2 separate regions of the Homo sapiens genome follow, and region 2 is linked to region 1. Evidence: fine-mapped expression QTL. Tissue or cell type: transverse colon. Region 1 holds a variant in brackets; the other region holds the start of a gene. All regions are shown on one strand. Distances are between the middles of the regions.

Region 1 (8,333 bases):
TCCTTCTTCCATTGCCTTTGCTTAATTAATGACAGTGCAGTGGTTACAAAATAGCCCAAGCCACTTAATATGCCCTAGTCATATTCCCTTTCCCTCACTCCCACAGGCATCTCCAAATGATTCTACCTAAATATTTCTTAAATATTCCTTCCATCAGTGTCTCAGGTCAGGCCAGCAAATTCTCAAGCCTTATCCATGGCAATTGCTTCTAGTTTTTCTCTCTGTAGCTTATTCCCCTTACCTCATTCACAACATGGCCATCCTTGGCTTCCCATTCACAGATCTGTTCATGCCTTGCCCCTGATCACATTTCCTGTTATTTCTCACTGCCTAAAGGCCAAAGGCCAAACTTCTTAGCATGGCATTCAAGGCTCTTGACTATCTGGTTGCAACTTTTTTTCATTCAATCAACAAACTAAGCACCCAGGATGTGTCATGCCTTGGAGATACCTTTGTGAATAAGAGAGTGTGGCTCATGCCCTTATGGGACCACATTGTAGTGGGGCTTCACAGGCAGCAGACACACACACGCACACACTCACGAGTTAAAGGACAAAGAAAGAAAAATTGTCAGTTGTGTTTTGGAGGATATTTCCTTCGGTATCAAGGAACTGAGGTAGAAAAATAGAGTAAGACCGACTAGCAAGACTCCTTGAAGAGGTGACATTTAAGTTGAGATTTGAAGGAAGAGAAAGTATAGGCTGCGGAGAGTTGCCGTCCTGGTACCTGTGTGCATGGTGCTCTGGGGATGCTTCTGCCGTGATCATGAACTCTTCCAGGGGAGGAACTGCCAGGTCACTTGAGTCCCCAGTGCCTGGCATGTGGTAGGCTCAGTAATTGTGAGAAGAAAACCTGGATGGATAGGCAAGCGGAAGCATGCACTCTGAGATGAGCTGGGTATAATGTCTTTGGAGAACAATTACATAACCAACAATGCTGAAGCCTTGCATTTGCTGGTGTTGGCGTGTGTTGGGGGAAGAATGTCTGAAATGAGCTCTCATTCAGGTTCTTTATCACTTTGGTTCCATGGTCGCCATCCTTGTTATAGTGAAACAGGCATGTATTTTTTTTTTTACAAATAAAAGATAATAATTTTTTTTGTATTTTTCTTTGATAAAATGCTTCACCAGATCTTGCGTCAGTTTTTTTTTTTTTTTTGAGACAGGGTCTCGCTCTGTCGCCAGGCTGGAGTGCAGTGGCGTGATCTCAGCTCACTACAACCTCTGCCTCCCGGGTTCAAGCGATTCTCCTGCCTCAGCCTCCCGAGTAGCTGGGATTACAGGCACCCACCACCACACCCAGCTAATTTTTGTATTTTTAGTAGAGACAGGGTTTCACCATGTTGGCCAGGATGGTCTCAATCTCTTGACCTCGTATTCCACCCACTTCAGCCTCCCAAAGTATTACAGGTGTGAGCCACTGCGCCCAGCCCTTGCATCAGTTTTAAGGGGGAACTTTGAAGCAGAATGATGAAAGGCAGTGTCAGCGGTGGTTAAGTGCCCAGCACAGGCAGTTACATCACTGAATTCAAATGCTGCCTGACAGCAGATCCCAGGAAACCACTCAGGCTTCATAGCTTTATCTATAAAATGTGAATAACAAAATCTTTCAGAGAGTTGCTGGCGGGAGGATTCAGTGACACATGTGAAGAGTTAGCCCAGAGCCTGGAACACAGCTGAGGGGTGCCATTGTTGTGGGAGTGATGTTTCTCAGCCTGGCCCATCCAAATGTCTCCAAATGCTTCTGAGAGAGTCACGGCCAAAGATGACAGGGAACATGCCCTTTGGTCTGTTTCTCTAGTCGAAGGGGAGAAATTCTCTTGCTCAGATCAGAAGCTCTTTGACTCCAGAGCAGGCCTCTGAAAGTGGCCACTGCCACAGCAACACTAATGGGACTGCATCTCTGGTCTTGCAGGCCCTGCGTCAGGCGATTTCACTGCTGAGCTGACCGGTCCATAAACAGGCCATGGGCAGTGTCACACGTTTTCTCACACAACATGACTGTGGTTTCTCTTAATTTGTCTCTTCTCTGGGCTTCTTCCCGAGGCCTCAACTGTGCGGCAGCTGAAAACCATCTTCACGCTCATCCGGGGTGAGAATTAAACAGTCCTGTTAGTAAAGCTCTGTCCTTCAGCTCCTCTGTCTTTAGCCGCCCTCCCTGCGGCATGGTTTTAGGAGGAGTGGGAGCCACTCAGCCTCTGACTGGAAGGGAAGAGTTGGCCCCCGGCACAGGGTCTCCAGCATGGAGCCTTCAGCCTGCCCTGTGGCTGCCCACCCTTTGGCCTTCATGACTCAAGTTGGGGCCGCTGGTCTCTCTTGGCTGGGTCAGGGCCCAGGGCGGCTCCTTGGCTGGCCAGCTCTTGTTGGCTGTGGGTTTCTCCTTCCCTGCCCAGGAGGTCTGCCCCCGCTCTGCTGCAGGGTCACCCCACAATGGCCTCTGGCTCTCGTCTCAGCATCTATATCACGCAGGAGCAGCAGAAATCTGGAGTGTAACGCACACCCACTCGCCTTCTGATCACACCCATTCAGCCTCTCAAACTCTGCAGGCCTCCCCATGCTGCAGGGCTGCCCTGCCTTCCGTGTTCTCCTCAGCTCATCAGCAAGTTTTTAATGCCAAAGACACACACTCCATATCTTCTTTTCTAACCCCATACCCCATAGCCCAGTGACAGACAGGCATCCCCTACCATGGTAAAAGAAATCCCACAGTCTATCTGCCAGGCCTAGCCCCTGCTATGTTACAATGGAGTGAAAGCCATTTTGCAAATCTTTCCACAAATCTTGGTGGTTGAGCCAGCTGTCTTCTTTATTCTGTGTTCCTCCTTCCTTCTCTGGCTCCAGGCAACAGGACTCCTGGCCCAGGCTCTGAGAAGAGAGGCTCCAAATGGAACATGGTTTAAAGGCAGGATATGTGGTAAGAGGGGGAAAATGCATTGCTTCATATCTGCAAAATATTATCCATCATACACCATTCCTCTTGCAGGCTTGCCATAGCTAATAGAAGCCTTGTCCTTCAAGGTACTTTTCTTTGCTCCACTCTTACATTCATTCAACAAATATTATTGAGCACCTGTGACATGCAGGCATTGTGCTGGACACCAGATCAATAGCTGCCTCACAAACATGATGCAGATGTTCTCATCTCCACCTGAAAAGATGCTCAACCCCATTTGCCACCAGGGAAATGCAAATCAAAAGCGCAATATCACTTCACACCCACTAGGCTGGCTTTCATCAAAAAGGCACCCAATAACAAGTGTTGGTGAGGATATGGGGAAATTGGAACCCTCATACACTGCTGGTGGGAATGTAAAATGGTGCAGCCACTTTGGAAAACAGTCCCTCAAGTAATTAAGCATAGCGTTACCATATGACCCAACAATCCAGCACCTAAGTATGCAACTAAGAGAAATGAAAACATATTCATGCAAAAAAGAGTACATTAATTTTCATAGCAGAGTTACTCATAAAGCCAAAAATGGAAAGCAACAAATGATGAGTGGATAAGCAAAAGGTAGCATATCCATGCAAAACATTCAACCATAAAAAGGAATGCAGTACTGATACATGCTACAATGTGGATGAACCTTGAACACATTATATTAAGTTTAAAAAGCCAGTCACAAAAGACCACATATTGGCCGGGCGCGGTGGCTCACTATCCCAGCACTTTGGGAGGCCAAGGC[G/A]GGCAGATCACGAGGTCAGGAGATTGAGACCATCCTGGCTAACACGATGAAACCCCGTCTCTACTAAAAATACAAAAAATTAGCAGGGCATGGTGGCGGTTGCCTGTAGTCTCAGCTACTTGGGAGGCTGAGGCAGGAGAATGGCGTGAACCTAGGGGGTGGAGGTTGCAGTGAGCCGAGATTACACTGCACTCCAGCCTGGGCGACAGAGCAAGACTGCGTCTCAAAAAAAACAAAAAACAAAAAACACACAGACAAAAAAAAACCCACATATTGTACGATTCCATTTACATGAAATGTCTGGAATAAGCAAATATCTAGAGACAGAACGTAGATTAGTGGTGTGCCCGGGGCTGAGGGAGGGGGAAGCGGGGAATGACTGCTGATTCATATGTGTCCTGAGATTAGATAGTGGCAGTAGTTGCATGACACTGTGAATATACGAAAAGCCATTGAACTATACACTTTGAACGGACGAACTGTATAATTGTGAATTATATCTCAAGCCGTTAAAAATGTTCTCACCTCGTTCACTAATAGTGTCTCTTTTTTCCCAATTTCTTAGCTCTCTTGGAGCAAATGTGAATTCAACTTTCTGTAATTTTGAGACTTTCTCCAACATGCTTATTAGAGTTCAATATTAGGTGGACACCAATTCAATGATTTTTGAATGGTCATTTTCCATTAGAAGATAAACTTCAAGAGGGGAAGGATTTTTGTTGATGTTGTCACTATTATACCCACCATGCTTAACACAAGGCTTGACACACAGTCGGGTCTCAATAAATATTTGTTGAATGAATGGATACCTACATGAGCTTACTTTGTAAATGGACACAAAAGCCCAGTGATGACTGCTGGTCATTCATTCATTCATTCAGCACATATTTTCTGCAGCCTCCTCTGTGTATGGAGTGCGTGAATGAAACAGACATCTCTTTGCCCTGGGGGAACTTAGAACAAAGGAAACCTGTAGGTAGCACTTTTCATACTTTGATTAAATACTGAAAATAAATAAATCTAACATCCAGTAAAGGTTTAGAGTATTAAAATTGTAATTTTTTTTTTGAGACAGCATCTCACTCCCTCACCAGGCTGGAGTGCAGTGGCACAATCTCAGCTCATTATAGCCTCGACCTCCTGCACTCAAGCAACCCTCCCACCTCAGCCTCCCAAGCAGCTGGAAGCACAGGCACGTGCCACTAGGCCCAGATACATTTTTTTGTAGTTGTAGAGATGGGGTCTTGCCGTGTTGCCCAGGCTGGTCTGGAACTCCTGGGCTTAAACAATCCACCTGCCTCAGTCTCCCAAAGTGCTGGGATTACAGGCGTGCACAACTGTGCCTGGCATACAAAATGTTTTAAAGTTCTTCTCAGCAGGGCTTTGAAAGAAAGTTAGGCTGAGTTGAGACAGCCATACAAAGAAAAAGATTCCGAAGGACAGAGGATAGGTGAGAAGCAGGTTAATCAGGAAAGAAAAAAAAAAAAAAGAAAAAAGATAATGAGCTTTTCCAGCAGAACGATTTTACCAGTTAGGAAGGCTTTTCAAGTTGTGATATTAATTTCTTGTTGAAGTAGGAAGTAAAATCAGAAAAGGAGAAAGTGCCAAGTCCTAGCCCTCATCTCCAGTGACAGGGAAGTCTTTGAGAAGATGGGAAAGTATGACTCAGTGGCTTGGAGGAGAGAGAACAAGGGTGTTTTAAAGAGATGGGGAAGATCTAATTTAAGTACAACTGCCTTCTTCACTATGGAAACTTATTGGAAAGATAGCCAAGAGGTCGAGACAGAAGGCAAGAAGATACTCCGTGATGACCCGAGTTGAGAAACCAAGAGAAGCCAGCTTATACGTACACAGCCCACAGCGGAGGAGGGAGGTCTTGGGGTCAAAAATCAAAGCAAGGAAACTTGTCCAGTTGACTTTTTTTTCCACACAGACAACCTCTTCGTTCCACCTCTCTCGCCCCAGATTTCCATCTTAACATGCAGGAATTCTAGAAAACCATTAGCGATTTGATGTGAACAGAGCTAGGAAGTGGTTAAGACATGAATAAGGCTTTCGAAGAGGCAGGGTGAGGCTGAAGAGTTAAGACACTTGGAGAGATGAGAGAAGGCAAGGAAGATGTGGGAAGAATAAAGTTCAGCGTCAGGGATGATGCTTCCAAATCTGGCGCAAATCACAAGTGGAGCTCGGGAAAAGAAAGAGATGGGCCCAAGAAAGAGCCTATACCATGGAGGCTTATGAACTAGGAAATCAATGGCCAGAGCTGCTGCTAGGGTCCTGCTGAAGGGGTCACCTGGCCTCACAACCAGCACCCCTAAAGTCCAGGGGGAGTGAGCAGTTCCAAGTGAGCCCAAGCACAGATGAGCCCCAGGGGGAGGAAGGAGGCAAAGTGTTCTTTTTTCCTGCAGTTAGATGCTCCATTGTGTTTTCTGTTTGCCAAGCTGGCTGCCCACCTGAAGGAACAAATAACAAAGGCGCCCCCCACCTCCCAGGCAGCGTGCACTGATGGGTCAGGCAAGGCAGGGATTTGGGCCCAGGAAGTTGCCAAGGACAGATCTAGGCTCTGCGGCTCCCTAGCGCCGTGTCACTGGCTATGGGCACGGACGCCACTGCTCTAAGCCCTGTATTCTCTGCAAATGTAGTGGTGATACAAAAGGGCTGTCTTTGGGACGAATTAGATCGTGGAGGCAACGCTCCTAGCATGGTATGGCGCTTGTAATATTTTATCAAGCCTCAGATGCACATATTTTCAGTATTTGAACGTCTCTAAAATCAGGCCGTGCAACATTCTTTTTCTTCATGGTACATGAAGTGACGGTCTAACTTCCAATTTACTGTATCTTAGATCTGATAAAATATGGAAGTAGCCATCCAGTAAGTGGCAGTGGGGTGTTTTGTGATTGCTCTGCTTGTGTTTCATTCATGACACCGTCGATGTCCAGGGATTTCCTCTTCTAAGCTGGTTGAGTCTTTTTCCTGGTGGATGGGAGCCTGGGCTCTGGAGTCAGCCCAGCTGAGGACAAGTCTTGACTCCGCTGCTAACAGCAGTAAGATGTGGGCGAGGTGACGTCACCTCTCTGAACCTCAGTTTCCTCTTTTCTATAATGGAGATTACAGTATTACCTAAACTCATAGGGTTATTTTGAGGATAAAATGAGGTAAAGTTACGTAAGGTGCTTAACACAGTGCTGCATTGTATAAATGTTAATGAGGATGATAAAAACAAATTATTAAACAGTAACATTGAAAAACAGTAACATTGCCTTATGTAACAGTATTACATTTTATAAAAAGTGTTATTTGTGCTGCAATCTCAGCTGCTCTGAAGGCTGAAGTGGAGGATTGCTTGAGCCCAGGAGTTTGAGATCAGCCTGGGCAACATAGCAAGACTTCATCTCAAAAAATAAAAAACAAAACTCACAAACTTTACTTTAGAAAAATATTCCTGAGATACCTTGGGAACCTCAAGACAACACAAGTGCTCTATCTCACCTCACACCCCTCACCCCTGCCCCTCGTCCACCCCCTTGCCCTTCCATCCTCCGTTCTGGGTGGGGCTTTCCATCTCCCCCTGTCCCACTCCCCTCCTCAGGACTTTGGCCCCTTCTGGAAACATTACTTTAGAGCTGTTTACCTTGGAAAAAGTACTGGCTCACTCCTCCTTGGAAAAGGTCGCCACAGGTTCTGGCTGGGATTTTCTCAAGCAATGAATGACCCAGGACCTCCCCCCAACAAGGCTTCTCTGTCTCTTCATCTTCCTGTCTCCTCTCCCACCCTGGCTCACTGCATCCAGCTAGCTGCCTCTGTCCTCCCGGAATTCCCTCAACACTCAGTGACCTCAATATGTTCTCCTCAAAGCCTCTCATCTCTACCCATTGAGTCCTGTCTACCAATAAAGCTTCATGCTTTTAACGTTAATAGCTCACACACTTAGAGCCTCCCCATATCTTCAGAAACCCATGGTCCTTCCCACTGAAGGTTCTACAGTGATCCTAAGAGGATCACAGGTACGTAGCTCTCCTCTTCAAGCACAACCAATAAGCTTTTCCTTTGGGGAGGCTGGAGAGGCCCACAGGTAGTCAAGCGTTGCCTGTTCTTTTCTCGATCCCCAGTCTTTCTCATCATCTCATGAGCACTCAAGATGGAGCTAATGACTTCCCCCTAGGTTGGCTCTCTGGCAAACCCTTCTTTTTTCAAGGTGAGACCCCCTGCTCCTACAGCCTGCCTTTGATAACTGGCCTGCTCCACCACCCAGGGTCAGGAAAACCCAGACTTTTGCCTGCCACTTTGACTGCCAGTGGAATTGCATCATAACACAAGCTACTCTAGTATGGCACTTGCTGAAAAGTTCTCAGACTTGATTGAACTTTACCCAGTGCTCACCCTTAAGGTCTTGTTATATTAGGGTGAAATCTGTATCAGCATCATGGCCCTCGCGAAAAAGGACTTTTCCCTGGTTTCATAACCCCACCAGAATGACTCTAATGGTCTAAGGAGCATGTAATACACACACACACACACACACACACACACACACACACACACAATCTTAGCTTTTTAAAACTTGTTTCTGCTCCTTTAAATTTCTTAAAGACATGATACAATGTACTGGATAGGATGGGGTGTAAGATTTCATGAAATCCAGCAG
Region 2 (8,333 bases), 690 kb before region 1:
ATGAAGCCTCTATTTTTTTAAATTTTGTTTTATTTTTTGAGACAGAGTCTCATTCTGTTGCCCAGGCTGGAGTGCAATGGTGCGATCTGGGCTCACCGCAACCTCTGCCTCTTGGGTTCAAGTGATTCTCCTGTCTCGGCCTCCCGAGTAGCTGGGATTACAGGTGCCCGCCACCAAGCCCGGCTAATTTTTTTTTTTTTTTTTTGTATTTTTAGTAGAAGCAGGGTTTCACCACATTGGCCAGGCTGGTCTCAAACTCCTGATCTCAGGTGGTCCACCTGCCTCGGCCTCCCAAAGGGCTGGGATAACAGGCATGAGCCACCACGCCTGGCCTGAAACCTCTAATTTTTTTTAAAAAAAAACAATGTTTCAGAGGCCCACATGATAATAGACTTTTAAGATCTACATGATGAGCAAATACACAATGACAAGAGACCAGCAAGAAGTCAGGGACACTTCTGTACTGGGGTAGGGCTCATTAAGGTTCAGTTTTATCCAAAAGTTGGGCAGGGTTTTCCTCTCCACACTGCTGCCCCTCTGTGTTCAAGGGCTTGTTGCAGGAGTGCTTGCGAGTGGTGGCCATGGAAAAGGAGGCAGTCCCCCCTGGGATGGTGGGATGAGTTCAGCAAAGTTTCGGGACAGCTACCAGATGCCAGTGATGGATGGGAACAAATGCAGGCACCGTCAGGTCTGCTAACCCCTATAGTGACAAGCCATAGTTTGTGACTCACTTCTACTCTCCACTCCGTGGCCTGGGTCCCGACCTCTGGTCTAGGTGGTACACTGTAACCTCTCCTCTCCCTAGGCTCCGTCATCATCCGGTGTCCCTGGGGACAGGGGGTGGGAGTTGGGTCTCTTTCTCTGTCTGTGTTCTCATTCTCACCTATCCTTAAGTCATAAACTCGAATCCTAACTTCCCCAGGGCCTTCCCGTTTAGTTCTTAAGGCCAGAACTATTTTACTCTCTGTGAATTTGTTACAAAAAACCCTTATTCTCTGACAGGCTCCTGGAGAGAGTCAGACTGATGAGGAATCGGCTCTAACCCTGGCTCCACCACTGTGTGATACTGGCCAAACCTTAGTGCCTCCATCATCTTTAGCAAACTAGCACAGGAACAGAAAACCAAATACCACATATTCTCACTTGTAAGTGGAAGCTAAATGATGAGAACACATGGTCACAAAGTGGGGAACAACACACACTGGGGCCTACCTACTACAGGGTAGAGGATGAGAGGATGAGAGGAGGGAGAGGATCAGGAAGAATAAAAAGTACTAGACTTAATATTTCGTCACTGGGTGACGAAATAATCTGTACAACAAACCCCCGTGACACGAGTTTACCTACATAACAAACCTGCACATGTACCCATGAACTTAAAAGTTAAAAAAAAAAAAAAAAAGTGGCCCAGGCGCCGTGGCTCACATCTGTAGTCGCGGCACTTTGGGAAGCCAAAGCGGGTGGATCACTTGAGCCCAGGAGTTCAAGACCAGCCTGGGCAACATGGTGAAACCCCATCCCTACTAAAAATACAAAAATTAGCCAGATGTGGTGGTGTGCACCTGGAATCCCAGCTACTCAGGAGGCTGAGGCACGAGAATCGCTTGAACCCTCTACCGGGAGGCAGAGGTTGCCGTGAGCTGAGATTGTGCCACTGCACTCTAGCCTGGGTGACAGAGTGAGACTCGGTCTCAAAAACAAAACAAAACCCCAAAGTATAATACACCTGACTTCAACTTTATGACATTGCTGTCTTTTATTACATCTTTTTATATTAAAAATAAATAAAAATGTCATAAATAGTAATTGTGTAAATATAAAAGGCCTTATTAAAAAAACAAATCTTAGTGCCTCAGTTTTCTCTTCTGTCAAGTGGGCACATAAAATTACCTAAGTCATAGGGTCCTGGGCATTTAAATGAGAGAATGTACGTGAAATATTTAGCACAGTGGAGGGCTAGGCACACGGGGAGACTGCAGTTTAAAAGACTAACCAGGCACATGAGACCAAAGACACAAAAGTCTGTTATTTTCCTAGAGTCAAAAACAAAACTTATTAGAAGGCTGTCTTTACCCAATCTTGTCCTCAAAATTGACTCTAAATCTTTAGTTCACTTTAAACATTCAGTAAATTATTAACACTGCTTTGAAATTCTCTTTCTATTCTCTCTATCCTGTGACCTCTGACATGATGTCACAATTCACCTTCTGCTCTGACTTTGTGAGGATTTCCCAAGCTGGTTGGTGCATGGGCTTCCTCACTTTTTTCCTCACGAAGAGGTCTCTGGTCTCCCCTCTCTGAGCACTCTGAGGTAGGGTTGCTGTGTGTTTTGCTCTTGGTCTAATTCCTTTGGCTAAACATGAATAATTATATTAATGAATGGCTTTGGAGATTCTTCTTCCGTCCTTTGCATTTTTCCGAGATATGTTTCTGGTTTTGGTATCTATTAGAAGGGTATTTTGGTTTCTGTTTTGTGACAATCAAGATTTATAGTACAGAAAATTAGAAGTGATTATTTCTATTTCAAGGTTCTTTCTGTGGCAGCCAGGTAATCCCTTGGGTGCCCTGATTTACTCACTTGGTTTTTTTCTCTCTCCTGGGTATAAGACCAACTACATAATTTACAAAGCCCAGGGCAAAATAAAAATGCAGCCTCTCATTCAGAAATTATTAAGAACTTCAAGAGGGTGAGAGCACAGCATCAAATCAAGAGCAGGGCACTTCTTTTTTATTTTAATTTTTCCATAAGTTATTGGGGTACAGGTGGTATTTGATTACATGAGTAAGTTCTTTAATGGTGATTTGTGAGATTTTGGTGCACTCATCACTCGAGTAGTATACACTGCACCCTATTTGTAGTCTTTTATCCTTCGTCCCCCTCTCATCCTTCCCCCTAAGTCCCCAAAGTCCATTGTATCATTCTTAAGAGCAGGCCACTTCTAAATCTGGGGCCCTTCTAAGTGCAGGGCCCTATGTGACTGCACGGGTTGCTGGCCCATGAATCTAATCCTGCCCGGGAGGCAATGGTGGTAAAAGCTTTAGAATCCTGTAGGCTTGGGTTAGAGTCTTAGCTCTGCAAGTTACTCTTTTGGAGGAAGAAATATATGAAAAAGCGGACACAGGAGCTTATTAGATTGTGAGGAGCACATTAGTTTGATGGGTCCCAGGAGAAGGAGCCAACATTTCTGTATTCCACTTAAGCGCTGAGAACGGTGCTTTGTACCTAAAAAAATTTTTTAATTAAGACATAATTCACATGCAATAAAATTAACTCTTCAAAAGTATACAATCCAGTGGTTTCTAGTACACTCACAAAGTTATACAACTATCACTGCTCTCTAATTCCACAATATTTTCATCACCCAAGAAACACCATATCTATTAGCGGTATCTATTAGCAGTCACTTCCCATTCCCTCCTGCCTTAGTTTCTGGCAACCACTAAACTACTTTTTGTCTCTATGGATTTGCCTATTCTGGACATTTCATATAAATTAAAAACAATATATGGCTTTTTGTGTTTGACTTTTTTTTTTTTTTTTTTGAGACGGAGTCTCGCTGTTACCTAGGCTGGAGTGCAGTGACTCACTGTAACCTCTGTCTCCTGGGTTCAAATGATTCTCCTGCCTCAGCCTCCCTAGTAGCTGGGACTACAGGTGCCCGCCACCATGCCCGGCTTATTTTTTGTATTTTTAGTAGAGACGGGGTTTCACCATGTTGGTCAGGCTGGTCTCGATCTCCTGACCTCGTGATCCACCCGCCTCGGCTTCCCAAAGTGCTAGGATTACAGGCGTGAGCCACCGCACCCGGCCTTCTAAGGGTTTTATAGTTTTAGTTCTTACATTTAGGTCGTTGATCCATATTTAGTTAATTTTTGCATATGGTGTGAGGAAGGAAGTGTATAATTTTAATTCCTGCTTAGCCTGACGATAATCATGTGACCCTTGGTAAGTTCTTGCACCTAAGTCTCAATTTCCTTATTTGTAAAGTGAGAATAACAAATGGTAGCTAAATCATAAGATTACAGTGAAGATAGAAAATTTACGTAGAGCATTTATCACACTGCTTGAAGCATCCTAACTACTCGATAAATGCGGTCGGTGTTACAGTTATAACATGAGCGATGAATGCGTGCTTCCACAGTGGAGTGCCAGAAAGACCGGCAGCATTTCTGAGAAGGTAAACGGGAGGAAGTAGGCTTGCTTAGTCCACTTGGAGAAGCAGGTCTGGGATTGTTGTGAGAGTCTCTGCCCTAGGTAGACCACTGCCTCATGATCCCCTCTAGAGATTGGTAAAAATTCGAATTCTCGGGCCCCATCAGAACTACTGAAAAGAGCCTCCTGTGAGCACAGGGCTCGCAGTAAGTGGGGGTGACGGTGGTCGCGCCGGCAGCGCCGCCTTGGGCCTGCGGGAGGCGCCCGAGAGGCAGGGGCGACCACGGCGGCTGCGCAGAGTCCTCCCTATGCCGGCGGTCGCGCCAGCGGGATCCGCCTGGCTCAGCTGACAGCTCCCGAGAACGGAAGAGGCGGCGCGCCGGTTGAGCAGGGCGTCTCTAGGCCTGGTCGGCTGGCGGCGGTGAGTGGGCCCCAGGCAAGGGCGGAGGGCGGAACTTTGGGGTTCGGCACTGCCGGGCGGCCGGAAGGTACGGTGGGGATAGCTCTCTGGGCGCGCGAGGCAGAGAAGGGGACCGGGCTGGGACTGTACACTGGGCCTCAGTCCCTCAAATCCGGGACCGGGCGTCCGCAGCTCGGCTGGCCGGGACTCCCTTCGGGACGCTGAGGAGGAAGGGGAAGGTGTGGGCCCTGCTCCTTCGGGACGCCCCAGGCTGGCCAGCAGCTCACACATCCGCATTGCGCCCTCTGATCCCAGCGTTGGGGCGGATAGCTAGCGTTGGGCCTGCCCCTGTTTTGGGGCAGTCGCCCAAACGACGCCGCACGCCTAGTGGCGAGCTGAACCCAGACTAGGACACCCGAAGACCAAATGGATAGAGTGAGAAGGAAATGGGGGTTAGCAACCTGAATTGAGGTACTGGATTCCAAGTGACAGCTTCACAAGCTGAAATCTTGTAGGGTAGGTCATGAGGAACTGTTGAAACTGCTTGGAGTAGAAGTTCTTAGCCCTGGCTGCATATTGGAATCACCTGGAGAACTTGGAAAACTACTGAGGCCTGAATTAATTGTTCTAGGGTGTGGCCTGGGTATTGAGATTTTAAAAAACAGCTCCTCAGAAGATTCTAATGTGCAGTCAGATGGAGAACACTAACCTAAAACCATAAACTGCATGAATGAATCTCTCATCCCATTTGCAAATGTTTTAACAGGAAGAAACAAAAAGCTTAATTCAATTAGCACCATATACTCCCACCTAGTAAAATAAGACAATGTGAAAGGACCTAATACAGTACATAGTAGGTGCTCAATTAATGTAAATTGATTCTGAATCTCATTCTTATCTCATTTGGGAGTTACACATCCGAGAATCTGGTTTTTAATTATGGTTTTGTATATAGTATTTTTGCATATAATTTTAGGGTGTTGATAGGATTCTCCGTAGCCCATCTATAGACCACACTCCCTTTTCCCCTCACCCCAGTGAAGAAGCCTAGCTCTAAAGCATTTAGAATAAAACTTAAAAGTTTGTGTTTGTGTACTCTTGTTTTGTTTAAGTATTTTTCTGTTACCAAAATTAACCTTGAGTGCCACTGGCAGGCTTAATTCATGAACAAGAGAGGAAAAACTGGAGGGGAGTGGCAAATGAAGGAATACAAGAAGCAGAAGAGGAAAGGAGAAAAAAACAAAACAAAAAACAAACTGAAGAGATTGTTTGTTATGGGGCATGGTGTCCTGTACTTTCATATGACCTTGGTGTTCCTCCTTAGCTCCTCCCATAGCTGAGGGCAGACAGATAAAAAGTCCTCAGTCATTGCTGGGGACATGCAAATACTCCTTTAACCACATGGCTCAGTTAGCCTGCCCTAGGAGAGTAACATGCACTTGTAGATTAGGATTGGCTATATGTTAGGATATGTTTGACTTAAGCAGTGATCATGGAAATTCAGAATTTTAATTTGGAGAGGGTCCTAACACCATCTTTTGTATTTCTTTTCTGCAGATGGCAGGATTTTCATAATATATGTAGTATGAGTTCCACATCTTGGCCTCTTACCCAGCTTCAGCAGTCTCAGCTCCACCAGTTAGAGAATAAATGGGATTTGCATGAACTCCACTCTGAGCTGAAATACAGACTGCGGTGTTAATATCCTTTTCTTCTGATTGTTATTAACAGGTACTAACTGACCTCAAGTAGAACATGTAATTGTGTCTTAGATAGGGATGCAGCTTAAGCAGAGCCATGAACTAACATCTCCTAGAAAAAAAGTGTTTTTTGAAAATGAAATCATTTTTAATTTCATAGTATGACCTTTTAAAATGTAAAAAATCCTAACTTTTTACTTATGTACATTTTAATTAAAAATATTTTAGTTGTGAGGGAGGATATTTGCAAATGCAATTGTAGTTCAATATTTTAATTGACTGGTAGTTTTGTTTTATTAAAATGATTTTTGTAAATTCTCATTGCATATTTTTTTCACATTTAAATTATCTGAAATTGCTGTATCTTTCAGTTGATGCTATTTTAAAAAACATTGATTCATACTTTATTTTTTGAGACAAGGTCTTGCTCTGTCCCCCAGGCTGGAGTGCAGTGGTGCAAACACGGCTCACTGCAGCCTCAGCATCCAAGGCTCAAGCGATCCTCCTGCCACAGTCTCCTGAGTAGCTGGGACTACAGGCACACACCACCACACCTGGCTAATTTTTTATAGAGACAGGATCTTGCTATGTTGCCAAGGCTGATCTCAAACTGCTGGCCTCAAGTGATCCTCCTGCCTTGGCCTCCCAAAGTGCTGGGATTACGGGCATGAGCCACCATATCCAGCCAGTTCATACTTTAATTGTAGCTAATTTCTTTTTCTTTCTTTCTTTCTTTCTTTCTTTCTTTCTTTCTTTCTTTCTTTCCTTTCTTTCTTCTTTCTTTCTTTCCTTTTTTTTTTTTTTTTTTTTTTGGAGACAGAGTCTGTCTCTGTCACCCAGGCTGGAATGCAGTGGTGCAATCTCAGCTCACTGCAACCTCTGCCTCCTGGATTCTAGTGATTCTCTAGTCTCGTGCCTCAGCCACCGAGTAGCTGGGATTACATGCGTGTACCACAATGCCCGGCTAATTTTTTTATTTTTAGTAGAGATGGGGTTTTGCTGTGTTGGCCAGGCTAGTCTTGAACTCTTGGCCTCAAGTGATCTGCCTGCCTTGGTCTCCCAAAGTGCTGGGATTAAAGACTTGAGCCACTGTGCCTGGGCCTTGTAGCTAAATTCTTAGTATTACCTAAAATAATGGTAAATCTTTCTTAAAATTATTATCTTTTAAATATTCTTGAGTCATAATGGTGAATCTTTAAATTGGTGACTGCTTGGATTTGACAAAATCTATTATTTCAAAAATTTAATATTATTTTGCTGCTTGCTCAGTTATCTAATTTTCTTCCATAATATCTATGCCTGTAACATTCTCAAGCACTGTTTTCTCACCTGGGAGCAATTTTGCCTCCAACCCCCATCCTGCCCCAGGACCTGGCGCTATTTGGAGATATTTTTTTTTTTGAGACAGGGTCCCACTTTGTCACTCAGGCTGGAGTGCAGTGGTGCTATCATGGCTCACTGCAGCCTCGACCTCCCAGGCTCAAGTGATCCTCCCATGTCAGCTCCCCAAGTAGCTGGGACCACAGGCAAGCACCACCACACCTGGCTAGATATTTTCAGTTGTCACAGCTCTTGTGGGTGGAAGCGGGCCACTATTGGGTATCTAGTGGGTAAAAGCCAGGGGATGCTGTTAAGATTCTATAATGCACAACACAGCTCTCCAACAACAATTATTTACTTCAAAATGTCAATAGAGCTGAAGCTAAGAAAACTTGCCCTAAAGATTCCTGTGGATTTAAAAAATTTACTTTTTTGTTTTTTTGAGACAGAGTCTGACTCTGTCGCCCAGGCTGGAGTGCAATGGTGCAATCTCAGCTCACTGCAACCTCTGCCTCCCACGTTCAAGCAGTTCTCCTGCCTCAACCTCCCGAGTAGCTGGGATTACAGGGGTGAGCCACCACACCCAGCTAATTTTTGTATTTTTAGTAGAGATGGGGTTTCACCACGTTGGCCAGGCTGGTCTCGAACTCCTGACTGCAGGTGATTTGCCCGCCTCGGCCTACCAAAGTGTTGGGATTACAGGCACGAGCCACCGCGCCTGGCAAATTAACTTAAGAAAGGAGTGTAATATACTTTGACC

Evidence for each region.
Region 2: RNF14 starts here. The variant in region 1 is fine-mapped to the expression of RNF14 in transverse colon (GTEx, PIP 0.97).

The regions. Positions count from the first base shown.
Region 1 is chr5:142,658,090-142,666,422 of GRCh38, forward strand. All of the region lies in intron 1 of FGF1 (fibroblast growth factor 1), which reads right to left. Among named protein-coding and RNA genes, the nearest start is that of FGF1, 24 kb to the right of the region's middle. RefSeq lists enhancers at 1,854-2,354, 2,355-2,855. The variant G/A (reference allele first, on the strand shown) is at 3,686.
Region 2 is chr5:141,964,594-141,972,926 of GRCh38, forward strand. RNF14 (ring finger protein 14) reads left to right here and starts at 4,512. Exons shown (of 9, transcript NM_004290.5): 1 at 4,512-4,574; 2 at 6,111-6,284. LOC124901095 (a long non-coding RNA gene) reads right to left here and starts at 5,187. Exons shown (of 3, transcript XR_007058977.1): 1 at 5,015-5,187. RefSeq lists a silencer at 4,295-4,434 and an enhancer at 4,545-4,694.